Homo sapiens: one gene and its partners. The protein of the gene in region 1 purifies or fractionates together with the protein of each later gene. This does not show direct contact. Each region holds a gene or a part of one and is shown on either strand. Other genes may lie near its edges.

Region 1 (7,028 bases):
TCTGTGCTGGCAAACAGTGAAACTAAGGGCTGCCGGTGTCCTTATTTTTCTTGTAGCAATGCAGGGATGTTGATGTTCCAACCAATGGCTTGCCGGTCAAACCCACAGGTGAACAGATTGCACACGGGGTGGTCTTCACTCCATGCCGAGCAGCATACCATTCTCCTGTGGCCCTAGTGATGATCAAACAAACCAAAATCAGTGCATTATTCCCGAAAGTAAGATTATAAGACCTCAGCGAAATGAATAACCACATCACTCAAAGTACGTAAGTTATAGGAAAACAACATGGTGTGCAGGATCAGTCCCATGGACCACCGAGCACGGACCACCAAGCATGGACCACAGATCATGGACCACCGTGCATGGGCCACAGATCATGGACCACCGTGCATGGGCCACAGATCATGGACTGCCGAGCACCAACCACCGCCGAGCACGGACCACCGAGCACCCCATGGACCATAGAGCATGGACCACCAAGCATGGACCACTGAGCAGGACCACCGAGCATGGACCGCCGAGCATGGACCACTGAGCAGGACCACCGAGCATGGACCGCCGAGCATGGACCGCCGAGCACGGCAGAGCCGCCAGGACGTGCAGCCAGGCCAGAATGAGTGATGCCGAGACACCAGTGAGCACGAGGGTTGGTGGAACCCGCCCAAAAGCACTGTATGAGTCCTTCTTTAAGAAAATGAGTAAGATTACAGTCAGACAAAAAAATAAATGATCAATGTGAAATTTTTGAATAAATGAAGCTAGGAGATATTTAGAGGTAAATTAAATGATATTCACTCAAAGACTTCAAATTGCATTTTAACAAATAACTGGCTTCAGTAATAATGGAACTACAAAAATACATTTGGTGTCATATAAAACAAGGATAAATAAATGGCCTTTTAGGTAGATTCCTGCCATCTTCAGCAATTCCAGTTAAATATCAGCATGCTGGAAAAGTTACTGCAAAATATGTGACAGAGCAATAGCATATCGGTGTGTATGTACATAGCAGATGCAGGCTCTTAGCCAACACTTAGAATATCTGTAAGCAGTGCCTTAGCACCCATCTGCATTTTCTAAACTACACAACAGCTCTGATACGTTGCTGTTACAGCATCAGGTACAAGAGTGAGTCAGTATTAAGTAAAGTTGACAGATTAAGAAACACTCAAAGAATGGCATAAAGTTCTCCTGAAAATATTCCCCCATAAATATGCTATTTATACATCTGGAGAGAGAACCACAATAGCTATTTATACATCTGGAAAGACATCCACAAAAGGCCAGAAAAATAAAATAATTATAAGAAAGACCACATAACAAAGGGTTACAAAAGGCACAAAAAAGGAAGCAGCAATGCATCCACTAACTGGAGGCAAAACCAAGGCTGTGGGCAAGAGCTCTGCACAGTGAAACTCAAGGCATTCGCTGCAGAAGTGCCAAAGAGCTTCCAGAAGAAAGCCAGCCAGGCTTTCACCTCCGGCAGAGCTCCCATGGGATTTCCATCTCTCATGCGCCCACAGCATTGCCACCCAGGAAGCAGATGCACCCGGAAGACGCCCCATGCCGTCATGAGCCCCAGTGCACGTGATGTGCTCCAGGACGCTCAGCACGGGGCCCCACGGGCCTCCACATCACAGGGACCCTCACACTCCGTGAGCCTCCACGTCACAGAGACCCTTGCGCAGGGACCCTCACGCCCAATGAGCCTGCTCTTCACAGGAACCCTGACCCCGGACCTCCTGACTCTCCACCAAGCTCGCTTTCCCAAAACTCATGCTGGGAAGTGACACCTACTCCAGCACTACAGGGAAATATTTTCAATCAGTCCCTTTCACTCCACTACTTAAAGGCTCAAATAAGTGTTTTGTTTTCTCTTTTTCAAGTCAGTCAGCTGAAGAAGTAAGGACAATATAAGTCAGTGATTTCCAGCAGGGTTCTGTGACACTGAAAACCACATTTATTTATCTGAAGAGGTGTTACAAGTTCTAAATAAAGTTAAATCACATTCATTAATCTTAAAAATAAATCTATTTCACATACCACTTTAGGAGGGAATAAACCCAGGCACAACAGAATCCTACAACATCAACAAAGTTGAATGTTCACAGATAACTGAAAATAAAACTGTCTACACAGAATTAAGGCCAAGAAGAACCATTCAGAATTCCGTTTTTCTGAGGGAAAATACTCTCAAAGTAATAAAGTCATAGTTCACAGTCATAAACAAATAGTTTTCATGAATTTGTGTTTCAAAATGCAAACTTTACATGCTGCACAGAAATTTTAAAATCCGCATGGGCACATTGAAAAGAGAACATTCTACTGTGTCTAAGATGCAGCTGTGAGGACACATGAGTGATGCTCAGCTGTTAACAAAACATGAAAAGCTTCCCCAGGACAAGCAATTTATGGCTGTGTTAAGGGTTGTGAAGCATATTTTAGTCACTCTAATTTCATGAAATTTTTCTACTCCACTATTTGGATGTGTATCGAGGAGTAAAAACTCAATAATTAACTTCAAACAGTGCACTCTCATGCCAGGAAGGGGACTGAAGAGACACCCGGTCTCAGGGAAGCTCATTTCCAGAAAGTCTGTGCTACCGGAAGAAAAGGTGTTGCTGCGCTGAGAGAACCCCCACTTTCGCACGTGCCTCCCTGACCACCCGGCCTGCCTGCAGGTTCTGAGGCTCACACCCCGTGCAGAGCAGCTGCGGCCCACGAGCCATGAGCTGGTGTCCACAGAAGGAGCCACAGAGGCACTGAGGGGGCCACCCAAGCTGCCGGCAGGCGTGTGGCCCTGTGCAGCCACAGGAGGCCTCGGGGAACAAATCCATTTACTCACACAGGTATCCAGACAGTACTCCAACAAAATCAAAAGAAGACAGGAAAGAGGGATCCTCTGGGGGGGCCTCCATTACGCACAAGGCTGGGCAGACGCTGCCTCGACCACGGGGAGTTTCTTTTTTTTTTTTCTGAGACACAGTCTCGCTCTGTCGCCCAGGCTGGAGTGCAGTGGCGCGATCTCAGCTCACTGCAAGCTCCGCCTCCTGGGTTCACGCCATTCTCCTGCCTCAGCCTCCCGAGTAGCTGGGACTACAGACGCCCGCCACCACGCCTGGCTGATTTTTTTGTATTTTTATTAGAGACAGGGTTTCACCGTGTTAGTCAGGATGGTCTCGATCTCCTGACCTCGTGATCTGCCCGCCTCAGCCTCCCAAAGTGCTACGATTACAGGCGTCAGCCACTGCGACCAGCCACTGACCCCGGGGAGTTTCTGTGCATCGCAGCTGACCCTGTGACCTCCCAGGGGAGAGCCAACAGCAAACGCCACCCACATTATAGTGAGGCCCGGCTGCAGAGCACAGCAGAGCCGCCAGGGAATCTGAACACGGGCCCCCAGGCCCCCTGGGCCTCTGCATCTGTGCGGGTGCCATGGAGTCTCGATTCTCTTTGCGCCTTCCAGGCAACCAGGACGGGTGGGCTGAACAGCACATAGCGAGAAACTCCCTCCGCCGTCTTCTGAAGTTAGCAAGGAGCAACCCTTCACTAACAAGAAACTAACATTTAAATATATTTCTTCCTGTCGCAACAGCCTGCCATAGAAACGTGTTCTTCTGGCTGGAGGTGGAAGAGGTCCCACCTTAAAGACCCCCAGCCTACAACCAACCCAGCTTCTGCCTGGCCACAATGCCCACTCAACACTTCCAATCTGCACAGACACAACTGCAGACATCTAAGACGGCTTCCCCACAGAGCCACCACCACTAACACGTGCACCAAAGAGCTCGTTCCGCATGCCTGTGAAACAGAGGAGCTGCATGTTTTCTTTATTTGTAAACTGAAAAGCCGATCATGGTATTAAGAACACTGGGCTGGGCACGGTGGCTCACGCCTGTAATCCTAGCACTTTGGGAGGCGGAGGAGGGCAGATCACCTGAGGTCAGGAGTTCAAGACCAGCCTGACTAACTAACCAGCCTGACTAACAAAATTAGCCAGGCGTGGTGGCGCATGCCTGTAATCTCAGCTACTCGGGAGATTGAGGCTGAGGCTGAGGCAGAAGAATTGCTTGAACCTGGGAGACAGAGGTTGCCGTGAGATCATGCCACTGCACTCCAGCCTGGGCAACAAGAGCAAAACTCTGTCTCAAAAAAAAAAAACACTGAAGTAGGTGTGGAATAACTTGAGTGTACAACTCTACTTCTTCAATTTTAAATTTTATGAACTCTAAATACAGCTCAAGCATTTCCAAGGAAAACTTAGCATGCAAAGACTTAGTAAGAAAATGAGAATGTAAAATATCTCTACCCGTCCTCCTCCACTGTGCCCTGCATATGTTCACCGACCGTGCTGTTACCTGTCGGCTGCTCCGGGGAAGCCGCGCCAGGCGCACTCCTGACATATCAAACAGTCTCACTTGTCGGTTGTCATGGGGGAGGGCTATGATTTTTTGGCCGACACATACATTGATCCTGCAAAGAAGAGGTAAAAGTGGGTTGTGCATGAAACAGTGACACTGTAAGTTTTTGAGTTGACAGATAATGAAGCAGGAGGTTCCATATTATTCACATTTCAAGGCCGACTACATGAACACACTGCGTGTACCACCTGCTTACGGTATTCAAAAGAGACCAAGTTACTCACACGTAGCTACAAGATCACACAGACCCCATGCACATACACACAATACACACACACACACACACACACACACACACACACACTGCTCAATGGTAGAACCAGACCCACCCAGACACAAGACCAATCCTCACAAGAAGTCAAGAGAAGCCCTGCATGTCTGCCACAAACGGGTCATTCTCATTCTCACAAATCTCACTGATCCAACCTGGTTTTAGGCTAAGTTAGTTTAAGTTTTCATGGAATACTGAAACTGCATTAGAGGACAAAGGAGCCTAAACCATTGTTCCCGGGGTTCTATCAATTAAACCTCCATGAATAAAACATGAAATCACAATCAATCCTTTCACATCAAACTAAGCCACTTACTTAACCAACAGTTTGACTTTACCTGTTAATGGCAGAGTCCGTGCGAATAGTTGCAATGGGGGATCTCATATTTTTCAAGTCCCAGACTTTCACCGTGCGGTCATCGCTGCCTGAAACCACGTTGTCTCCCACGGTGAACACGGCAGAAGTCACAGTGCTATGAACAAAGGGCACAGAGTCAGATGCAACAGCAGGTGCAGGACGTGACACCACACCCCACACACAACCCTGACCAAGTGGGTGGGAAGGAGGTCGGAGAAGCGCAAACTCACAGCTCTCTCCTCTGCAAACTGCTCCCGCCTCCCAAAGCCTCTCCACCAGTGCAAGAAAAGGACAACTGATTTCTTCCCAGTGGATCAGAAACACACAGTCCATTCTACTCTATTCCACATCTACAGGCAACGGAACGAAGAGAGGTTACAGAAAGTAGGGTTGGACAGAACATGCCCAAATGTCTACACATCTGGGTCTATGGCAGAGAATTTAAAAAATCCATTCCAACAACAACTGTCAATCAATGTAATCATAACATATCTTGGTCTATAGCAGAGAATTTAAAAGAAATCCATTCCAACAACAACTCTCAATCAATGTAATCATAACACAGGAGTTAAGAGAAAAACACTCTGACAACAATTCAAACACGGACAAAGGACTTGGATCAACATTTTCCCAAAGAAGATATACAAACAGCCAAGAAGCCCCACACACCAGAATTCACAGTAGCATTACTGACAACAGCCAAAGAGGTGCAAACAACCCACATGTCCATCAGCAGATGGATTTAATGCGGCGTGTACACACAATGGAATATTATTCAGTCGTAAAAAAAGAAACTCTAACACGTGCTATGACATGAATGAACTTTCAAGAATCCCCCTCATCTAAGATCCCTGGACTAGGCAAATTCAGAGAAACAGGAAGTAGAACAGAGGTTCTCGGGGTCTGGGGGATGGGCATGAATAGTTTCACAAGTGCAGAGTTTCCATTTGAGATAATGAAAAAGCATAGGAAATAGTGCTGGTGGTTGCACAACAATGTGAATTGATTTAATGCCACTGAAGTACACACATAAAAACAGTTAAAATAGTAAGTTTCATATTATGTATATTTAACCACAATCTTTATCTTAAAAAGTTTGAGGAGAAAAATTCAACATCACAACCACTCTTGGAACCTGCTTCTATAAATCCAAAATAATAATTAATAGTTTTCTTTTTAATTCAAATGTGTTGAAATATGTGGCCCTCAGGGAGAGGCTCGAGGAACCGAAGAGGCCCTGAAATGGCTAAGATGGGAGACCCACGCCCTAAAGATGAAAAGTACCATAAAAACAAGAAGAGAGGGGGAAGAAAGGTTTCATCAGTTTATGTTAAACTCTTTCATAAACTTTTCTTCTGAAATGTAAAAAAAAGTGTTTGACATGGTGCTAAGTATATTAAATAGTCTTACCCGTGGTAAAATCGGATTAAACATGTAAACAAAGGATGTTATCACTTGAATTGCACTGAGAATCACTGAAGAAACCCAGGCAAAATCTGCAGAGGAAATCATGTCCTCACCAGCTGAGGCTGTGCTGGCAGTGGCTGGGGTGATTACCTTAACCAGTGATCAAAGGAAAGTCTCTGGCACTTGCCAGAAGGTATTTAGAACTCAAATAATAAAATGACATTTGAAGAAGAAAATTCAATCACCTCTTTGCTCACTGGCAAAGTTCAGTAAAAAGAATGTGATAAAAACCTTACTTTCCCCGTGAGCTAAGGGCACACAATCCAGGCATGATCCACTGCTGTCTTCAGCAACGGCCAGGGGGCTGCGCGTCCTGCCTGGCTCAGGGCTGGGGTGGGTCCCCATGCTCGCCATGCAGCTGGGCATGAGTGGCCCACCCAGGAAGGCATGGTCTGACTTCAGGGCAGAGTGGGCAGATCCTGAGACGCAGGGGCAGTGCCTTCTCAGAGAGACACAGGCTTGACCCCTACACTGTCTCCCAGGGCACAAAAACTGGGGTCACTCACTC
Region 2 (7,028 bases), on another chromosome or scaffold:
ATGGACTTTGTCAGCCTGTCTGCTGCTGCTTCTCCAGAGCCTAGATCAGTGCTTGGCACACAGAAACACTCAGTAAATATTTGGTGAATGGATGAATTGTGCATAACAGATAGTCATTCAATAAACATTATAAAACACTATAGGAAAATCAGTGTCATTGATTTGACAAATGTAGTTATTGAGCATCTATAAAGTAACTAAATAAAGGAACAAGATTATTTCCAGTAATGGCGAGTAGGTGTGAAGTAGCTTTATAAACTCCCAGAAGGGGTTGGGCAGGTGAGGACAGCCTTCCAAGGTAGCAGGTCAGTGAAGAGCTGAATGATACCCAGGAGCTAGTCTCAGCGATCCAAGGATCCAGGGAAAGGGTATCACAGGTAGAGGGAACAGCAAGTGCAAAAGCCCTAAGGCGAGGGTGACCCACCGCAGGAACAAGGGGAGAACGCAAAGGTGAGGTCAAAGACATGGGAAGGGGCTGCATCGTTTAGCATCTCCTGAACCATGAAAAGGGGATCTTTTTTAAGTATGACGGAAAGTTACTGGATGGTGTCTCTTATCTTCACCCACTAGAATGCAGACTTCATGAGATCAAGGATTTTGCTTGCGGCACATATCAGCTGGTCTATAAGCTTTTGCTGAATGAATGAACTGGAAGATTATAGAGGGGGTGTGACAAGTTCTGATTTTCATTTTAAAATATCACTCTGAACTGCCACTAGTGGTTACTTTCTGGGAAGGACTAAGGTGGCAGAGGTTGGGAGGGATTACAATGCAATGTGTTTGAGAGGTACCATAAAACAGAAAAACAGAAGGGAAAAGCTGCTCCCTAAACCCTGAAGCCATTTGGTGTTTGTAAACAAGAGGCAGGAAAAGGTTAGTGAGGAGGGATCAGTAAATGATGACTGATGCCCCAAGCCTTAGTGTGTTCTAAACTTTTTTTTTTTTTACCCAGACCTTTTCCCAGCAATAAACTATTAAAAAAAAAAAAAAAAAACCTGCTACAAAGAATGTCTCACCTACCAAGAGGAACAAAAGAAAACTCACAGACAGATACAGAAGTGCACATACTCACACACAAACACACACAATGTTTCAGAAAAACAACTGAAAAGAGGCTGGGCGGTGGCTCACGCCAGTAATCTGCTGACGCGGGCTTGAGGTCAGGAGTTCAAGACTAGCCTGGCCATCATGGTGAAAGCCTGTCTCTACTAAAAATACAAAAATTAGTCGGGCATGGTGGTATGCACCTGTAATCCCAGCTACTTGGGAGGCTGAGGCTGGAGAATCACTTGAACCCGGGAGACAGAGGTTGCAGTGAGCCAAGATAGCGCCACTGCACTCCAGCCTGGGCAAGAGAGCAAGACTCTGTCTCAAAAAGAAAAAGAAAAGAAAACAGCTGAAAAGAAAAAACGCCTTCCTATATCTCAGCACAATAACCAGCCTAGCCTGGGTGCGGTGGCTTACGCCTATAATCCCAACACTATGGTAGGCTGAGGCGGGAGGATTGCTTGAGCCCAGGAGTTTGAGATCAGCCTGGGCAGCATAGTGGGACCTTGTCTCTGCAAAAAATTAAAAAGTTAGCAGGGCATGTTGGCATGTGCCTGTGGTTCCAGCTACTTGGGAGTCTAAGGAGGGAGGATCACTTGAACCCAGGAGGTTGAGGCTGAACAGAGTGAGCTGTGTTCATGCCACTGCATTCCAGTTTGGGCAACAGAGTGAGAGCCTATCTCAAAATCAAAAACAAAATAACCAGTCTAAAATCCTTCAGAGACAATTAACATGCCAGTCATACCCAAAATGTTAGCTGGGGGAAATCCTACTCATAATAAAGTTTTGAGAGGTAGTTTGGAAAACTAGTTTAGAAAGAAATCACATAACCACTAATGTGTCCAAAAGATCTGTCATTTGGAGGAGTTACACAGACTACAAAGAAGGGAACAGGTGTTACAGTAGGGAGCAAATTTAAGGCGTCACTCCTTTCACATCTACCTATATTTATACGAGGTCACTAAAAAACATACACAGCAAATTACCCACATCACAATTTCTAAGACGCATACAGTTCTAAAAAGTGTTTTTGCCAAAATGACCTGTGGATACCACTGTATTTACAAAACTAAAAGTACTGAAAGTGTTGAAAGGATGAAGGGAGCCCAGGTTGATCTGAGAGTGGACACAGATCATTACTCACAAGGAGAAAAGAGGAAGAACGATATTTGAGATTCAGAAAAATTGTTGAAGCTAGCACTAAACTCAAATATTCCAACCTTTGTTGTACCTTAAAAACCTTACAGTTGGCCAGGCATGGTTGCTTACAACTGTAATCCCAGCACCTTGGGAGGCTGAGGTAGGTGAATCACCTGAGGTCAGGAGTTCGAGACCAGCCTGGCCAACATGGTGAAACCCCGTCTCTACTAAAAATACAAAATTATCCATGCATGGTGGTGCATGCCTGGAATCCCAGCTACTCGGGAGGCTGAGGCAGGAGAATTGCTTGAACCTCGGAGGCGGAGGTTTCCGTGAGCCGAGACTGCGCCTTTACACTCCAGCCTAGGTGACAAGAGCAAAACTCCGTCTCAAAAAAAAAAAAAAAACAAACTTACAATTTAAAAGGATCTGCACAAAATTAAATAAACAAACCTGCCATCAACACTATTTTATCACCTATGCCTCACCATCTACCTCAACACAAGGAAAGTAATGACTTAGAACATTCTCTATTCACCCATTTTTGTTTGAGACAGGGTCTTACTCTGTTGCCCAGGCTAGAGTACAGGGGCGAGATCATGGCTCACTGAAGCCTCGACCTCCAGAGCTCAAGTGCTCTTCCCACCTCAGCCTCCTGAGTAGCTGGGACCACAGGCGCACGCCACCACACCTGGCTAATTTTGTTTATTTTTTGTGGAGAGGGGTTGCCATGTTGTCTAGGCTGGTCTCAAACTCCTGGGCTCAAGTGACCCTTCCGCCTCAGCCTCCCAAAGTGCTGGGATGATAGGCATGAGCCACCACGCCCAGCCTTGGAATGTTTTAATAAACTATTTTCTAGAAGTTTTCTAGATGTGTTTCATTGGTTAGCTGTCTGTTCTACTGCGATTCCCAAGGTCAAGAGGCAGGGTGCAGGTCTGCCTAAGTGGCGATCCCTGAGTTGTGACCAAAGCCATTCTCTGGTTTTTAATGAGATAACGGGGAACACAGGTCCAGCTGACTGCCCTGTGAACATCTATAAGGGGTAACACTCTAGAGCTGGTGCATATCTTGGTCTCTAAAACCTTTGGAAGCTGGTTATTCCTCTATCTAGGTCCACAAAGAAGACCCTGTCAGTGCTTGCCAACCTAAGAGACTGCCCACCTTGCTTGATGGCCCTCTGAAAGAAGTTCTAAGTCCAACTCCAAACTCTGACTTTCCTCAAGAGCCCTCAATATCACCTCAAGCCCTGTGCTGGAAGAAGACCAACGTTGGCAAATCATTCCCACAGCTACGCTAGATTCCCACGGAATTTCCGGAATGTGACAACATGGGTGCAAGCCAGGCCAACACCAAATTTCAGAGGACCCACCATGTAGATGCATGCTGGCATCTACATCAACACCTTCAAGTCCAGGCCAGTCCAGGCACAGTGGCTCACATCTGTAATCCCAGCACTTTGGGAGGCCGAGGCCGCCGGATCACTTGAGGTCAGAAGTTCGAAACCAGCCTGGCCAACATGGGGAAACCCCGTCTCTACTAAAAATACAAAAATGTGCTGGGTGTGGTGGCGTGCGCCTATAGTCCCAGCTACCTGGGAGGCTGAGGCTCAAGAATCCTGGGAGGCGGAGGTTGCAGTGAGCCGAGATCGCACCATTGCACTCCAGCCTGGGCAACAGAACAAGACCCTGTCTCAAAAAAAAAAAAAGTCCAAGTCCAAACTGGACAAGCCTCCTGAACTGAGGTAGTGAAAAGACGCAGCTCTAACATTTTCTGAGGCGTACCCGCCCTCATTCCAGCACCTACAACAACAGTGACAACTTACTGGCTTAGCTAAGAAATTGGAAAACTAGTTTAGAAAGAAATCACATAACCGCTAAGGTGTCCAAAAGATCTGTAAATCAATACATGTAAAATGGACTCTGTGAAAGTCATTATCTTTCTAACTCATGTAATCTGAGCTTCCACAGGGACGATGGATACTATTACCCTGATAGAGATGATATTCTATTACAACACTCACAATGTGAAATTCAAATCTCCTAAGGTACAAACATGCTTTTAAGACTTTTAATGTGGCTGAGCGCGGTGGCTCACGTCTGTAATCCCAGCACTTTGGAAGGCCAAGGCAGGTGGATCACGAGGTCAGGAGATCGAGAGCATCCTGGCTAACATGGTAAAACCCCGTCTCTACTAAAAATATAAAAAATTAGCTGGGCGTGGTGGCGGGCACCTGCAGTCCTAGCTACTTGGCAGGCTGAGGCAGGAGAATGGCGTGAACCCAGGAGGCAGAGCTTACAGTGAGCCAGATCGCGCCACTGCATTCCAGCCGGGGGACAGAGCGAGACTCCGTCTCAAAAAAAAAAAAAAAAAAAGGACTTTTAATGCTAGGGTAGTAATAGAAATTTCATCAGGTCTTTCTTATTTGATCAATTACATTTACTTTATACCTATAATTTAAGAAATACTTTCTCCCATGCTTCTATAGATCCAATTTTATATATATTTCATCCACATCTAAGAATGGATGGTAAGTAAAAGTATTCCCATAAAGATGAAAAAACTAAGGCATGGGCCAGGCACAGTGGTTCACACCTGTATCCCAGTACTTCGAGAGACTGAGGCGGGAGGATCACTTGAGCCCAGGAGTTCGAGACCAGCCTGGGCAACACAGCAAGACCCCATCTCTACAAAAAAATCTTAAAATCAGCCTGGCATGGTGGCAAGTGCCTATGGTCCCAGCTACTCAGGAGGCTGAGGTGAGAGGAATGCTTGAGCCCAGGAGGTCTAGGTTGCAATGAGCCGTGATTGTGCCACTGCACTCCAACCTGAGTAAAAAAGCAAGACTGTGTCTCAAAAAAACAAAACAAAGGCTGGGCATGGTGGCTCACGCCTGTAATCCCAGCACTTTGGAAGGCCAAGGCGGGCAGATCACAAGCTCAGGAGATCGAGACCATCCTGGCTAACACAGTGAAACGCCATCTGTACAAAAAAATACAAAAAATTAGCCAGGTGTGGTGGCAGGCGCCTGTAGTCCCAGCTACTCGGGAGGCTGAGGCAGGAGAATGGAGCGAACCTGGGAGGCGGAGCTTGCAGTGAGCCGAGATTGCACCACTGCACTCCAGCCTGGGCGACAGAGCGAGACTCCATCTCAAAAAAAAAAAAAAAAAAACACCAAAAAAAAATTAATAAAATTAAACTAATGCATGGAAGAGTTTGTCCTAGTATATAGTAAGAAGATAGAGTAGTATATCTTGGCTCGTATAGTGCTTCTGTGGTTAAAGGGGCAAATGCCCCCAAGCGTTTTCATGAAAGTAACACTTCTGCTGCAGACCAGTCATGCCAACTCAGCTATGGCCACCTTCTGTGATTCCAACGCTTTTGTCCATTAAGGCTTGACCTCAGCACCCACTTAAAAAAAATGTGACCTAAGGAGAAAAGTGACTGATAACTGCCAACTCCTACCCTAAGTTCACATACACATAAGGGTATGCAAATGGGCTTTGGATATGGTTTGCGAATGATACAGCAGAGCACATTTCATCTCTTAATAATCACTTTTATGCCACTGAGGAAATTTTGAATGCTTGTAAAATTTAGTAATTTTTCTGCCTCTCCTACTTACAGCAACACAAAAAGAAAAGAACATCAGGGAAACCTCACCATACAAAGGCAGAAGGGAAGGGATCAACAATGAGGCTCTAACACCCTTCCTTTAACATCAAGCAGCATGCCACCTGGTCCCCATAACCCTGCACCACGGTCCATGCCATACTGGACCATAGTAGAGGAAGTACTACTTAGCATGAAGGGAAAACAATGCTAACTTCTAAAGCTTGAATTTCATAAAAGATAAAGGAACTATAGCAAAACTACCTTTTTGTAACAGAATCTTAAAAGCCAACTGTATTTCACAGTGATTACCTCTGGGAAGTGAGAAGAGGGATGGACTGGGGGCTTTTTCCTTTGTGCTTTCCATCTTTCCATACTGCTCAAATTTCTAATCATGGACATATATTAATCATTTTGTCTTTAAAAAAAATGCTGGTAAAAGGCTGGGCACAGTGGCTCACACCTGTAATCTCAGCACTTTGGGAGTCCGAGGTAGGAGGACAGTTTGAAGCAAGGAGTTCAAGACCAGCCTGGGCAACATAGTGAGACCCTGTTTTTAAAAAAAAAAAAAAAAAAAAAAAAAAAGCCAGGTGTGATGTCACATGCCTATAGTCCCAGCTACTTGGGAGGCTGAGGCTGGAGGATTGCTGAGCCCAGGAGTTGGAGGCTGCAGTGAGCTATGACTGTGCCACTACACTGTAGCCTGGATGACAGAGCAAGACTCCATCTAAAGAAAAAAAACAAAAAATGCTGGTGAAAAATGTGATCAACAGAACAATTTCATTCTTTTAAAACCAGCTGTGAGTAAGCTATTCACCTATATAAAGTTTTTCAAAAGTACTATGTATTCTGGGGGAATTTAACAGATGTTAAATAAGAGCAGACACCTACCTGAAGAACAACTACACTGCTCTTTATTTAAATATCTAATACAGGAAACGGTATTTTTTTCAAAAGAAAATTATATTTTGACAGGCATCAAGAAAAGCAGCAGGACCTTCCTAACACTGTACTGTTCGAGCCCCTCTTCTCTGCCCTAAGAGACCAAATCCCATGACATTCTTATGCACACCTAACCTTAGATCCACAATCATGTTTACATTTCTAAGGGGCATGTATCTCATATATTTGTGTCCCGTTTGAGTTACATGAGACAAGAATGTTAATCCCTCCACAGAGTGCTGCATGTTGCCTATATATTCTAAACAACATGAACAAGGACACCCAGGAGA
Region 3 (7,724 bases), on another chromosome or scaffold:
GAATGGATACAGAAATGACTTTTCACAAGAATAAGGGGGAAATGGCTCCCAGAGCTTGTTTCCCAGCAGTCCTAATTACTAGAAGTCCATGTCTTAGTATTTCTTTCCATGACGGTGGCCTCTACACCATCCTAAATCAGATATAAGGCTATTTCACTATTTCATTCAAAAGACATTTACCGAATATCTATCCAAGATCTACGGTGGGCACTAGGAATACAAAAGGGAATAAAGTACTTATGTTCAAGTAACTCAGTTTAGTATGGGAGACAAACACAAATAGAATACTATAAAACAATACACAGCAACAGAATAATGCACAAGTTAATACGAGAAGATTATCAGTCCTAACTCAGAAGGGGAGGGCTTCCTTTCCCCTAACATCATCAGGAAAATGTTCTGAAAGAGGTCAACTTTTCCTCTGCCTATTTGCCTACTCTATAAAGTCTAGATGCACAGGACACATGGCTATGACCAAATACCAGGAAAGATAGCTGGAGGCAAACTACCATAAACACTTAAAAGATTTGTGACCTTGGCAGCATTGATGTTTCCAGATTGAACTTTTCTTCCGGATTCACGCTTTGTGTTCTGGCCTAAAATAGACAAAAACACAAGTCAACAGCCCAGGACTGCCCCATCGTACACAAGCTATTTATTTCCCCGTCTTTGAAAAATAAGAATGCAGGTTTCATGGTATATCCACAGAGCAAAGCTTATCAAACTCTACACTTTAAATAAGTGCAGTTTATTATATGTCAACCATATCTCAAAAAACTGTAAACATATGTCCTTATGGCTGTTAACTTCCTTCTGTATTTCAATCCTTGGTATATTAAGAAATAACTTTGGAATCTTGGTTAATACTTTTCTTCTAACCAAATATTCCTATATTTACAGCAGGGATTCATAACCTGAGATCTATGAATGGGCCTTAGTGGGATAGCGAACTCCCTGAGATTATGTGAGAAAATGAGAGATACTGCAATTTTTTTTTTTTCCGGAAAGAGGATCCACAACTATTATCAGATTCTCAAAGGGCTGGTGACCCTAAGAAATGACCATTCATTGCTTTGCGTAAGCAGGGAAAGAGTTTGGGGATTCACATTTTTCTGCTTGGATAGGGGGATCATACTCTAACAGGTCCAGCATAATTAGTGATAGCGCCCCCACAGCATACTGTTTAGAACACACTCAACAGTTTGCAAGATAAATTATATAGTCACCTCATAATTGGATGTAATAAGAAGGCCTCAGTAACCCATTTACCATCACTAAGAACTGACTACATACTTTAACTGGGAGGCTAATCGGTCACAGCCAACTAATGCCAGAGATTAATGCAGACCTGAAAGGAGCTTTGCAAATACACCACTCACCCCCAGGCCATGTCAGTGGAGACAAGCCAGTGGTTATAACCAAACCAACATAATGTTTATTTCCTTCCTCTCTCTAAATTACCTTCCTTTACAATTTAAGTCTGTAAATCTTTCAATCCAGTCCCATCAAACCAAAACACCCACAATGCTTAGGATTTACATCTATCTCAGGGAGCTGTAACCAAAAACCTGCATGGACCTACAATCCATCAGAAAGAAGGCGGCTTTTTTTTTTCAAAATAGCGTTTTTATTTTATTTTTTTCCTTAAAAGTTATTTCCCAGGTACAGAGATAATGAATAATAACTCTGAAAGGCAGTCAGTATACAGAAGACGGTAAGGGAGGGGAGATGGCTAGCCAGGCTCTGCAGATGAGGTACAGAAGTTACACACAGAATGGAAACATACCAAAGGAAGACAATGGAGGTGGTGCTCATCAGAAAAAAATAAGGGACCGGGCGCGGTGGCTCACGCCTGTAATCTCAGCACTTTGGGAGGCCGAGGTGGGCGGATCACCTGAGCTCATCAGCAGTTGGAGACCAGCCTGGTCAACATGGTGAAACTCCGTCTCTACCAAAAATACAAAAATTAGCCGTGCGTGGTGGCGCGCGCCTGTACTCCCAGCTACTCGGGAGGCTAAGGCAGGAGGATCGCTTGAACCTGGGAGGCAGAGGTTGCAGTGAACAGAGATCGCGCCACTGCAACCCAGCCTGGGTGACAGAGCGAGACTTTGTCTCAAAATATAAAAAGAAAAAAAATAAGGGATCTTCCAAAAGGAAAAGGTGACCAGTCGAGAAATCTGGGAAAACCCAACTGGTTAGTGGGAAAGAGTACAACGCCGGGGACACGGAGGGAACGATTACATCTAAGATCAGTGAGGCAAGTACGGTTACTTCGGGAAAAGGGATTGCTGTTCAAGAGACTGTTACTGAAAATAAATGTAACGTAAAGTGACCAAGGATATTACCTATTTACCAGACCCTCTTTAAGCAGTCTACCGACTTACCTCATTTAATTCTCACAATTCTACTAGGAAATACTGTTAACTCCGTAATACAGATTGAAACATTTAAATTACCGCTACTAAGGGATGGGCCAAGAATATAAAGCTAGACCTAACTGAAAAAAAAACAAAAAAAAACGTTATTCGTGCAGCTACATAGCGACAATCAGGCTAGAAAGGGCGCAGGGGCGGGGGAAGCGTGGGGGCTGAGGGACAGAACGCGGAGTGGGAAAGAGCTTCCCAAGACGAGCACACGTCAAGGAAAGAGGCTCGGCGAGAATAAGGCCAGTTTGAGTTTGTGCAGAGAAGCGAACAGGTTAAGAGAAGAGAGGAAAGCGGGACACTGGGCTTCCAAAATGAAGACGATGATTGGAAGGCTCAGTGGCCCGGTCAGTGGGGGACGGAGCTGGGGCAACACTGAAAAGTATGGACAGAAGAGGGCGAAAAGGGGGTCCATTTCCTGGCATCCCCAGAACTCACTGAGCACGAGCACTGGACGATGGCCCATCATGGCGACGCGATGCAGAGCCGGGTACCCAGAGCTGGGGGAACCGGCAGAACCTTCTGGAGAGAGAGAACCAGACAGAAGCCCAGAAAACGCTGCCTCCTCAGGGCTTACACCTCAACCCGCTACTCTCAAGGTAGTCGCCAATCACCGCACCCATCTCATTGATCGGCACAAAAACAGACCAATTGACAGCCTTAGTCCCGCCCCCTACGCAAGAACGGCCAGACAAGTTAGACAGAGAGCGCACGACGAAGGCACTGGGAGGGCACAGGCGCTTGCGCAGTAGGGTGGCCGCTCCCGGCCGCGTGCAGCGCGAACGTCGGCGCAGGCGCCAAGGCTCTGGCAGTTGGCCAGCACACCACTACGCATGTGTGTCAACTCTAGGGTTGGGTGCTGGGGTTGCGGCTTTCGGTTAACACCGCAGGTGAGGTCGTTAAACTGTGTATTGCGACTCGGCTCCTATCGGACCGTGAAGGCTAAGAAAGGCTTCACAGTTCCCACTCTTTTGGTCTAGCCTTAGCAACAGGTGGACTAGAGAGGCGGGACTCCAGCCAGCACATGGGGGAAAGACCTGCCGGCTTGGCGCAGGGTGAAGTGGGAGTTGTAGTCTTACCGGGCCGGACTGCGCAGCCTTTTTCCGGGCACACTGGGAGTTGTGGTTTATCGCCTCTGGACTAATGGCTGTATGTGGACTTTTCCCTTCTTAGGAAATGCTTTCAGTGAGGCTGTGAGCAGTACCGGAGGGTGATGGCTTGCGTTTCCTTAAGTTATCCTATCTAAAATATTTTCCCAAGTATTTCCGCCGGGCGCTGTGGCTCACGCCTGTAATCCCAGCACTTTGGGAGGCCGAGGCGGGTGGATCACCTGAGGTCAGGAGTTCGAGACCAGCGTGGCCAACATGGCGAAACCCCGTCTCTACTAAAAATACAAAAATTAGCCGGGCGTGGTGGCGCGCGCCTGTAATCCCAGCTACTCAGGAGGCTGAGGCAGGAGAATCGCTTGAACCCTGGAGACGGAGGTTGCAGTGAGCCGACATCGTGTCACTGCACTCCAGCCTGGCGACAGAGCGAGACTCCATCTCAAAAAAAAAAAAAAAAGTATTCCCTGTGGTGCTTTGAGATTTTTTTCCCCCACATCCATCCCTCTCCCGCTGTCCTGAGTCTTAGTTAGAGATGATGGGGAGCCAGAGTTTTAAAATTACCATTCGGGATAGGAGAAGGACTTATCATACCGTGGAAATTAAACATGGTGAGAACACGGAAAGTAACTGCCTGTTCGTCAGAGACGTTTAAGGTTTGGGTTTGGTTAAATTACTATTTTGTCCAGAAAAAAAAGGAAGCACTAAAGGAAAACTGTTTTCCAAACTAGTGAAGGGGCCGTGAGAGCACCAACAGTTCAAGAACAGTCACCTGTTTGGCCATGAAATAGAGTTTCCTACTTTTTCCTCTGCAGATTGGAACAGGCTGAGATCTGCTGGAGACAACTTAGGAAATTATCATAGTGAAAATACTAACATGGATTGTTGATCATCTGATGCTATGATTCTTTCCCAGGCACCACACCTGTTGGTGTTCAGATGGAGCGGCACACTAGTCATCCTAACAGAAAAGGTGTGTGTTGGAGGCCCTGCTTCCCCTCCCTTAAAAAGCAAGACCTCCTTTGCATTCCCCACTAAATGGGAGCATTGCTGTATTCCCAGCACCTAGAACTGGATCTGTTAAATAGTAGATGCTCAGTAATTATTTGTTAAATGAATTTATTATTCTTCCTTTGTATCTCCTCTTAATACTTAGAACAAGACTATGTACAGGATCTTAGAAGACATGGTGTTAACTAGAGTGAAGAGATACTGAGTTGTAGTGGGACAGCCCCATTGGTGGGCCAGGGAAATGCCTGAGGCCTTCTGACTCCAGAGCCTATCCACTTAACTTTAGCTGGATCAGATTATCTGAAAGACCTACCATTCCATAGCCTGGACATAATTTTTTTTTTGTTTAGACGGAGTCTCGCTCTGTCACCCAGGCTGGGGTGCAGAGGCACCATCTCTGCTCACTGCAAGCTCCGTCTCCTGGGTTCACGCCATTCTCCTGCCTCGGCCTCCTGAGTAGCTGGGACTGCAGGCACCTGCCACCATGCCCGGCTAATTTTTTTGTGTTTTTAGTAGAGACGGGGTTTCACCGTGTCAGCCAGGATGGTCTTAATCTCCTGACCTTGTGATCCAACTGCCTTGGACTCCCAAAGTGCTGGGATTACAGGTGTGAGCTACCGCCCCCGGCCTTTTTTTTTTTTTTTTTTTTGAGATAGAGTTTTGCTCTTGTTGCCTAGGCTGGAGTGCAGTGGCACTACCTTGGCTCACCGCAACCTCTGCCTCCCGGGTTCAAGCAATTCTCCTGCCTCAGCTTCCCGAGTAGCTGGGATTGCAGGCGTGCACCCCCACGCCCAGCTAATTTTGTATTTTTAGTAGAGATGGGGTTTCGCCATCTTGGTCAGGCTGGTTTCGAACTCCTGACCTCAGGTGATCCGCCTGCCTCGGCCTCCCGAAGTGCTGGGATTACAGGTGTGAGCCACCGCGCCCAGCCCCAGCTTGGGCATAAATTAACTGGCTCTTTTCACAGAGTATATAGTGCAGTGGTAAAGAGCATGACTTTGGAGTCTACAGGACCAAATTTAATTCCAGCTGCTATTTGCCAGACCCTCTTAAGCAGTTTACCTACTTAGGATCACTGCCACCTCTGTCTCCTTGATTCAAGTGATTCTTGTGCCTCAGCCACCCAAGTAGCTGGGATTACAGGTGTATGCCACCACGCCTGGCTAATTTTTGTATTTTTAGTACAGACTGGGTTACGCCAGGTCTTGAACTCCTGGCCTCAAGTGATCCGCCCACTCTGGCCTCCCAAAGTCCTGGGATTACAGGCGTGAGCCATCGCGCCTGGCCAGTTTACCACTTATTTAATGCTCACGATTCTACTAGAAAATACTATTAACCCCACAACAGATCGAAACATTTAAATTAACTGCTACTAAGGGATGGGCTAAGGGTATAAAGCTAGGCCTAACTAAAAAAACATTATTCATGCAGCCACACATATCAACTGTGGAATCTTGAGCAAATTTCATGACTTAAGTTTCCTCAAGTGAAATGTAGGTAAAGCTACCTACTTTATCTACATTCCTCAGGTCACGTTCCCCAGTGCCACAAGACTCTCATAGCACTTACTGAAATGTAATAGTTTGTGTGCTTGATCACCTAATGACTGTCTACACTGCAAGACTATCAGTTCCAGGAGAGTAGTGACCACATCTGTTTAGCAGACTGTGGTATCCACAATGACCCTACTTTAAGGGTCATTGTGAGAAACATATAAGAGAATGTATGTAAAGCACCTTTTATTATCATATCCTCTGTTCTGCCTCCTTTTGCCTCTCTCCACCCTCATCCTCTGTTATACATTGTCAGAAATACAGCTCCTTTAGTATAGAGTGTGTGTAAAGCAGTCTCTTTCTTTAATTAAAAAACAATTTTTAATTTCTCATGCCACCTTGTGTAAAAATGTGTAAAGCATTCTTCAAACCTTATAACCCAGTATAAAATGCATTCTTGGCCGGGCGCAGTGGCTCACGCTTGTAATCCCAGCACTTTGGAAGGCTGAGGCAGGCAGATCACGAGGTCAGGAGATCGAGACCATCCTGACTAACACGGTGAAACCCGTCTCTACTAAAAATACAAAAAATTAGCCGGGCATTGTAGTGGGCACCTGTAGTCCCAGCTACTTGGGAGGCTGAGGCAGGAGAATGGCATGAACCTGGGAGGCGGAGCTTGCAGTGAGCCGAGATGGCACCACTGCACTCCAGCCTGGGCGACAGAGCAAGACTCCGTCTCCAAAAAAAAAAAAAAAAGAAAGAAAAAAAAATGCATTCTCCTATGTCCAGGAAGGACTCAAATTATTTAAAAGTGCATTTGCATGGAAATTAACACATTTTGCATGGAAATTAACACATTATTGAGAAGAATCTTGAGACCTGAGTTTCAACTTCTGTCTCCTTACCACATTCTGCACAAGCCATCAAGTGACTGATGACTCTGGAGCAGGAGGGAAAAGAAGATGGATGACCTACCAGTAGAGCCTGGAAAATCCACAAACCCAGTAACCCAGTGCAAAAGAAAAAAACCAAAACCAAAAAAACATATTTCCCTCACCAAGAGTGACTGACAGAACAGATTTCAGTTTTCATAGGCTCAGTGACCTTCCAGACAGAAAGCATCTCACCCTGGCACCCACATATAAGCACTTCTTCCTCTTACCAGGCCATTCCTTCTGTTGCCCTCTGAGTAAAGAACAAGAATAAGACATTTTCCTTCATACAACCTACTTTTCACACTTCTGCCCCCAGGCTTGTTTTTTATGAAGAGGCCCTTCTTAATCCTTCAGATCCCAGCTGAGATATTATTTCCTCAGGACATGTTTTCCAGCTCTACAGACTAGGTCAGTTGCTTTCATAGCACTTACTGAAGTGTAATAGCATGTGTGCTTGATCACCTAATGCCTGTCTGCACAGCAAGACTGTCAGTTCCAGGAGAGTAGTGACCACTTCTGTTTAGCAAACTGTGGTATCCACAGCGATGACACATAGGCACTTAGCTATCTCTTATGTGTATGATGAAAATGAATTGTTTTACCATCCTTTCTTGATTTCATTATAACAGTGAATTATTGTCTCCCTACTGTCTTGCCTTTTTAATTCTTACCTAGTTCCAGCTGTCTGACTTTCCATCCATTGCCCTTGTCTACTTTGCCACTTCCTTTTCATCTTCTAGACTCCTGAGGAGGAGTTCC
Region 4 (7,547 bases), on another chromosome or scaffold:
CTGACCCACTCCCACTCAGCGCAGCCCACCCACCCCCTCCCGAGGGGCCCGGCAGCACCCACAGGTAGGCTGCACCTGCCTCCTCGTCCAGGCCTCAGCCTCTACTCGGGGGGGGGGGAGCAGAACTATCCCAGTCACAGCACTCCCCAAGGCCTCTACACCCTTGGGCCAATACTCCCTCCTCTCATAGTCCAGGAGCACCTCTGAGGATGTGAGCTTTAGGGGAGGGGAAAAGGAGGTCTTCTGCAGAGCGGGAGAGCCGTGCCCCAACAGCACTCTGCATACACGCAAACTCAGATGCTAGTGAAGAGACAAAGCACACCCTTGCCCCGGCCTGGAGGCGCCGGGAGCTCAAAGGCGGCAGAGAGGAGGAACTAGAAAAGAAACTTAGGCCTCCCAGAGGACCTGTGTGCTGCCCAAGCCAGGCACAATCTCACTCAGAAGACTGTGCCAGGGCCAGGCCACGCCCCAGCCAAGGCCTCAGCAAGTGAGGCTCCAGCAGGAAGTAGGGTCCGAAAAGGTGCATCACCCGTCCCGGGAGCCCAGGGCTTCAGGGAAAGGCAATGGGGCGGGCAGGCGGCCTATGGAAGAACCTACAGACCAGGCACCTGTTTGCCTCCTTCCTGTCCCACCCAGGCCAGAGGCAGGCGTTCAGGGCCTGAGGACAGTTCAGAGTTCCTCAGGCTGCTCTCCCCACATCCCATCCAAGATCCTGTTGCGGAGCTCCCATAAGCCCCTAGACTCCTTCCCCAGCTGCCAGCCTCCTCCTCCTCCCCCTCTGGGCCTCAACTCCAGGGAGCCCTCCCCTGGGCAGAAGGAACCTGACGCACCACTGTGGACCTGAAAAACCTGCCTGTTCTCTTAACCCCTAAAAGCCGCTGTATTCCCAGGAAGGTAACCAACCCTTGCCCCCGACCCTCAATGGCCTAGATCAGCTCCTTCCTAAGGGGGCTGAAGAGCCTTCCAGAGCTGGATCTCAGAGGTCAGAAGCCTTGGTTCTGATGCTCAGGTGGGCCCCAGCTGGGGGGTCTTCATTAAGGCTCCTTCCTTCTTTCAATAGATCCGGGCTGGCTGTAACGTAAGTCCTAGCTAGCTGTACTACCTTCCCAGGGACGTAGGAGCCCATGTCCTGCCCACGAGTATGCTCCCAGTTTCCCCAAAACAAATAGCTGTGCCCTTCCCTGACTCAGTTTACCCCCGACAGAGCCCCCCCACCCCCAGCAGAGTTAGGAAGGGGCTTCACTGACTCCCTCACAGAAATCCTCCAACAGACGCTCGTCAGCCCCCTAGTTCTCAGCACGGGATCCAAACCAACACGCCTGTCCCAGCTTCCTCTGGGCCAGGCCACGGCAGCCTTGGCTTGCTGGCCATGAGCTGGAATCCAAACACTTCCCTTAACAGCTAAATCGCTGTGTGACCTTGGGCAAGTCACTTCGACTCTTCGGGTCTCTGCTAGAGGGGAAATCAGCCAACCTCCTCTCATCCAGCCTGCCCCCACTGATTCAGAGCCACATCAGCACAAAGCCTGGTAGGTTGGGGCGATGAGCATCTGCTCTTCTGCCCAAACCTTGGCCTTGTCTAGACAATCAGCAGTACTGCCCCAGCACCTGTCCCTCACCCCAAGGCAACTCCGCTATGATGGGAACAGGGTCAGAGGGCTGAACGCTGTCCCCATCCTGATTCCCAAGTCAGCCCTGGCGCACTCACTGAAGCTAGGAAGGGAGATGATGAGGCGTTAAGACCACAAGTCCCAACTGAGGACAGTCGACGGAGGAGGGAGGGACTGGGGGACAGGAGTAGCTCTGCACCTCCACTGCCACCCAGAGCAAAGAGGGCCTGAGGAAGATGACGACTGAGGGCCTGGGAAGGGGATTCCAGCCCCAAGGCTGGAGTCTGAGACACGGTGGAGGGAACAGAAGGAAGAGAAGGGGCTCAGGAGAAAGGGAAAGCAGGCCCCACCCGAGACAAGCTGCAGCCACTGCCACAGTCACCACCATACAGCCCCCATGGGGGATCGCTGGGAGCTTGACTCCACACTAACGACCTTTGCCTTAAAAACAGCAACTCTGGTCTGACCCACTTTTCGCAATAAGGCAGGTTAATGATCAAGTTCTGGCACAAACACTTCCCCCTGCCAAGGAGTTTGGCTCTGCCCCATGCAAAGGCAGACGCCCCCTACACCAGGTCGGCCGAGCAGGCCAACACACCTGAGAGTCTCCGCCACAGCCTGAAGACCTGCGGTTATAGCCTGGCCTCAGGGCATGAACCAGGGACGCCCCTCACAACGCACACCCCGCACCTCGTGCTCTTCCCACAAACCAAGCCTGGGAAGCCTCGAGCGGAGCTTCACTCCCAGGGCTGCAGCCCTGCGCACAGGGGATGCCTGGGAGGCCGCCGCGGAGCAGGTGCCGAAGGGGGCTGTCCCGCAAACGTCGGAGCGACCCCAGCTCAGAGAGCTCCCATGCTCGGGCGCAGAGGGGGTGGGGCCGCCGATTCTTTCGGTCTGCGGCGGCGGCGCACCCCGAAACCGCGTGTGCGCGCACGTGTCCCCGCGATGAGGCGCGCGTGTGCCCGCCGAGGGTGCCAGCCGAGGCTGCCCTCCACGGGACCGCACGTGCGAAACCCGGGCCGCAGCCGGGGGCGACTGTGAAGGTGACCTTCAGCGCGGGGGCGACCCGGTGAAGGCCCCAGCGAGATACAACCGGGCCCGACGCGGAGGGAAGGCGGCGATCCCCGCGGAGTCCCGAACCCGCCCGCCCTGGTCCGGCGCCCCCCGCCCAGCGGCCCGCTGGCCCTGGCCCCGCTCACCGGCCGCGCCCGGCCGCCCCTTGCCCCCGGCCTGCGAGCCGTGTTCCCGGGCGCTGTCGGCCGGGGCGGCCGCCGGCAACTCGTCCGTCTTGATAACCATGGTGGCGGGAGCGGGCGTCCGCCTCGGCTGTCCGCGCCGCCCGCCGCGCCACTAACCCAAGTGCCCTGCGCGCCGCGGCTGCTGAGGGAAGGACGGAGTCACCGGCCCACGTGGTGCGCGCCGTGGCCTTTGACCCCGCCGCCGTTTCCCTGCCCCACCCTCGCGCCCGGCCCAGCCCACGGCGGCCCGCGAGGGACAAAACGCGCCGCGCCTGGTTCCCCGCCCACGGACGCGGTGACTTTCCAGAACGTCTTAAAGGCAACGCACTCTGACTCAAGGCCCAGGGAGGCTGGGCGCCCTCGCGGGGCGGGGCCTCGGGGAGACTCCCTGCTGCTCGCTGCCCGTCGGGCGGGCACTGTGACCTTGGGTGGAGACTGGTCTGGTTCTGCCATGGCTAATCCTCCCCTCTCCAAGGATCCCCTGTTTTCTCTTGCAGATTTGCTAAATGACCGCGCAGTCTGTCATCTGCGGTGTTCGCGTGACCCTCAGCGCCCTCCCCACCCGGCAGGCCCTTTCCCGCCGAATGGGTGCGGCTGGATTATTGAGGGAGTGGAGGGTCGCTTAGGGCACGGGCACGAGAGGCGAGGGCGAGACGTGGCTAATGGGGATCAAGAGTCAGAATGGACCCGCCAAACTTTGCCCCGAGCCAGAACGGGCTCCCTACCCGCGTCCTCGACCCATGGGTCCTCACCTCCAGGCTGGTGTCCTCATTTTACAGTGGAGGAGGCCGAGACCAAGGTCACACAGAGAGCAAGGGGTAGAGCCGGGTCTGACTCCATCCACAGCCAGGACGCTTTAACTCGTATTTTTCACTTGGCAGGGGCTTGGCGGGGACGGAACGGTGAGGTCAGAGAATGCTGCAGAGGGGACATTGGGACCAGGTCTTGCAGTGAGTTGAAGTGCTCCAGGCAGAGAGCGCCGGTGGGTCTTTCCTGGCCAGGCCGCAGGGGGCCTTTGGGAAGCACCCGAGGCCTATAACCTTCGGAGCGTTTGTCAAGCTCTAATGAGAACTGGAAAGCTTCAGCTTCCCGAGGTGGGCTGGGAGGGCCTTAGGTAGGGCCTCGCACAAATTGCGAAGGAAAGCCGACCTTGTTCTGGAGAGCACGTGGTGAGGAAAGCCAGCGACTTGATGTGAGCATTTAAACGGGAGGAAGGAAGATGAGAACTGGTAAGATTCTTCTCGGCCGGGCGGTGCAGCGGCTCACGCCTGTAATCCTAGCACTTTGGGAGGCCGAAGCCAGGCGGATGACTTGAGTTCAGGATTCGGAAGTTTGAGACCAACCTGGGCAACATTTCAAAACCCCCGTCTCTACAAAAAATATTGTTTAAAAAAAGCCAGGTGTAGTGGCACGCGCCTGTAGTCCCAGCTACTTGGGAGCTGAGCTGGGAGTATCACTCAGGACGGCTCAGATTGAGCCCAGGAGTTCCAAGCTGCAGTGAGCTATGATCGCACCACTGCACTCCTGCCTGGGTGACACAGACACCGTCTCAAAAAAAAAAAAAAAAAAAAAGCCGGGCGCGGTGGCTCACGCCTGTAATTCCAGCACTTTGGGAGGCAGAGGCGGGCGGATCACGAGGTCAGGAATTAGAGACCAGCCTGGCCAAGATGGTGAAACCCCGTCTCTACTAAAAATACAAAAATTAGCTGCGCATGGTGGTGTGCGCCTGTAGTCCCAGCTACTCGGGTGGCTGAGGCAGAAGAATCGCTTGAACCCAGGAGGTGGAGGTTGCGGTGAGCCGAGATCGCGCCATTGCACTCCAGCTTGGGCAACAAGAGAGAAACTCCGTCTCAAAAAAAGAAAAAAAAAGTGTGCATATATATATATAGTGTGTGTATATATATATAGTGTGTATATATAGTGTGTATATATATAGTGTGTGTATATATATAGTGTGTATATATATAAGTGTATATATAAAATATATATATTTATAATCAATATATATAAAAGTGTGTATATATGTGTGTATATATACACATACATACTTATGTGTGCGTGTGTATATACGTATGTGTATACACACACTCGTTCCTCTTTTGTTACACAAATGTGCAGAAAATTGTACCTGCTATTCTTCACTCTGATTTTTTTTTTACACGCTTTCAGTAGGTGTTCTCATTCCATTTACGCTGGATAATGTTGTATTGTTTGGTTGTACCATAATTCTTTTAGCCGGTCACCTGACTGATGGGTACTTAGTTTGTATTCATGAAACTCCAGGGTTTTTGAGAATTGTGCCTAGTGGCCCAGTGCAGCTGAAGTTGGAAGCCCGTGCATGTTGCTAATGCTACTCATAATAGGAAGCTCAGTTTTAACCCTGGGGGTTGGGGAAGAGCAGCAAGCCTGGGGTTAGAGAAACAGACACGTATAAAAAGCATCATCCAGCCGAGTGCGGCGGCTCACGCCTGTAATGCCAACACTTTGAGAGGCCGAGGAGAGCAGATTGTATGAGCTCAGGAGTTGGACACCAGCCTGGGCAATATGGCAAAACCTCATCTCTACAAAAAATACAAAAATTAGCTGGGTGTGGTGGTGTGCGCCTATAGTCCCTGCTACTCAGGAGGCTGAGGTAGGAGGATCACTTGAGCCCAAGAGGTTGAGGCTGCAGGATCTCGCCACTGCACTCCAGCCTGGGCGACAGAGCAAGACCCTGTCTCAAAAAAAAAAAGAAAGCAAAGAAAGAAAAGAAAAGAAAAAAAAATCATCCTCTGATCACATTCTCCATAGTCTGGTGGTCTGACCTCTGACCACACATTAAGCAGACTGATTCTTGCTTTCACACAGCTTCCACCAAAGTCTTTTCATCATAGTCTTTTTTTGGGACAGCATCTCGCTGTGTAGCTCACGTTGGAGAACAGTGGCAAGATCTCAGCTCATTGCAACCCCGCCTCCCGGGTTCAAGCGATTCTCCTGCCTCAGCCTCCCTTGTAGCTGGGACTACAGGCGCCCGCCACCATGCCCGACTAATTTTTGTATTTTTAGTAGAGAGGGGGTTTCACCATGTTGGCCAGGCTGGTCTTGAACTCCTGACCTCAGGTGACCTGCCCACCTTGGCCTCCCATAGTGCTGGGATTACAGGCGTGAGCCACCGCACCCGGCCTCCATCATAGTCTTAACAGCACATACTCCCATTTTCCCCAGCTATTTCCACCATTGCCTATAACAATGTGCTATGGTTAAGGTGATCGCATAGTTTATCATTAAAACCAGAACACTTTTGAGAGTGCAAGTGGAACCTATTAATAATGACACAGGGGCAATAGGCATAAATTGAGACCCTCTTGGCCATACTGGGATGTCTGGGTCTTGGGTGAGGAGTCCAGCTGCTAGACCCGGGGACTTTGTTATTTTTTATTTTTTTTTGATATGGAGTCTTGCTCTGTCGCCCAGGCTGGAGTGCAGTGACGTGATCTCAGCTCATTGCAACCTCTACCTCCCGGATTCAAGTGATTCCCTGCCTCAGCCTCCCAAGTAGTTGGGATTACAGGCATGCGTCACCATGCCCGGCTCATTTTTGTATTTTTAGTAGAGATGGGGTTTCACCATGTTGGTCAGGCTGGCCTCGAACTTCTGACCTCGTGATCCGCCCGCCTTGGCCTCCCAAAGTGCTGGGATTACAGGCATGAGCCACCGCGCCTGGCCGACCTGGGGACTTCTTGAAGGCAAGAACCATAACTTATTTATCTGGGTGTTCCCAGCATCTTTCCAGAGCCCAATGCATGGTAGGTGTTTAATGCACATTTATTTATTTTTAATTTTATTTTTAGAGACAGGGTCTCATTCTGTTGCCCAGGCTGGAGTGCAGTGGCATGATCACGGCTCACGGAAGCCTCCAACTTATGGGCTCAAGTGACCCTCCCGTCTCAGTTCCCTGAGTAGCTGGGATTACAGGTGCACACGACCATACCCCACTTAATGCACATTTGTTGACTGAGTGAATGATTTCAGTGTAGAAGGTGCCAGGCCCTGAGGGCTCCACAGGATGTGGGGGGGCAGCATTGCTGGCAGCCTGGGGTTTCACCTTTGAGCCCCCCATTATTTATTTATTTATTTATTTTTTGAGACGGAGTTTTGCTCTTGTTGCCCAGGTTGGAGTGCAATGGCTCAATCTTGGCTGACCACAACCTCTGCCTCCCAGGTTCAAGCAATTCTCCTGCCTCAGCCTCCCCAGTAGCTGGGATTACAGGCATGCGCCACCAGGCCTGGCAAATTTTGTATTTTTAGTAGAGATGGGTTTTAGTAGGGTTTTAGTAGAGTTTAGTAGGGTTTTAGTAGAGATGGGTTTAGTAGAGGTGGTTTCTCTATGTCGGTCAGGCTGGTCTCGAACACCCGACCTCAGGTGGTCTGCCGCCTTGGCCTCCCAAAGTGCTGGGATTACAGGCGTGAGCCACTGTGCCTGGCTGAGTCCCCCATTATTTATAACAGTTGGCTTTCCTTTCAGACACTCCTTTTGTGTACTGTATGCTTTGACCTTTGTGTCTAGAACTTCAGATCATTTCCATAATGCCTGACTGAGACCCACCAGCCTGAGCCCACGGAGGATGCCAAGCGGAGGCACCTCTCCCTATCCTCCTCAGGGTCAGTGAGCGTCCGTAAGTGCCTACCGGTCAGCATGGGGATCGGTGACCAGTTTGTCC

What was found.
Region 2: the proteins of WDR37 (region 1) and PACS1 purify together in Homo sapiens (affinity purification with mass spectrometry; 4 studies listed by BioGRID and IntAct, with this or other methods). This does not show direct contact.
Region 3: the proteins of WDR37 (region 1) and CCT3 purify together in Homo sapiens (affinity purification with mass spectrometry; 2 studies listed by BioGRID and IntAct, with this or other methods). This does not show direct contact.
Region 4: the proteins of WDR37 (region 1) and CLUH purify together in Homo sapiens (affinity purification with mass spectrometry; 3 studies listed by BioGRID and IntAct, with this or other methods). This does not show direct contact.

What each region holds. Positions count from the first base shown.
Region 1 is NC_000010.11:1,122,358-1,129,385, reverse strand, and holds part of WDR37 (WD repeat-containing protein 37), read right to left. Parts: intron 5,169-7,028; coding exon 5,034-5,168; intron 4,477-5,033; coding exon 4,362-4,476; intron 174-4,361; coding exon 42-173; 3' UTR 1-41. UniProt on the Homo sapiens protein: Required for normal ER Ca2+ handling in lymphocytes. Together with PACS1, it plays an essential role in stabilizing peripheral lymphocyte populations.
Region 2 is NC_000011.10:66,073,270-66,080,297, reverse strand, and holds part of PACS1 (phosphofurin acidic cluster sorting protein 1), read right to left. Parts: intron 1-7,028. UniProt on the Homo sapiens protein: Coat protein that is involved in the localization of trans-Golgi network (TGN) membrane proteins that contain acidic cluster sorting motifs.
Region 3 is NC_000001.11:156,335,293-156,343,016, forward strand, and holds the start of CCT3 (T-complex protein 1 subunit gamma), read right to left. Parts: upstream 3,001-7,724; 5' UTR 2,893-3,000; coding exon 2,862-2,892; intron 2,498-2,861; exon of another isoform or gene 2,385-2,497; intron 2,258-2,384; exon of another isoform or gene 2,022-2,257; intron 1,949-2,021; exon of another isoform or gene 1,787-1,948; intron 597-1,786; coding exon 535-596; intron 1-534. Other genes in the region: TSACC (TSSK6-activating co-chaperone protein), read left to right, coding at 3,448-3,478, 4,443-4,499. UniProt on the Homo sapiens protein: Component of the chaperonin-containing T-complex (TRiC), a molecular chaperone complex that assists the folding of actin, tubulin and other proteins upon ATP hydrolysis.
Region 4 is NC_000017.11:2,708,754-2,716,300, forward strand, and holds the start of CLUH (clustered mitochondria protein homolog), read right to left. Parts: upstream 3,012-7,547; 5' UTR 2,909-3,011; coding exon 2,809-2,908; intron 2,501-2,808; exon of another isoform or gene 2,300-2,500; intron 1-2,299. UniProt on the Homo sapiens protein: mRNA-binding protein involved in proper cytoplasmic distribution of mitochondria.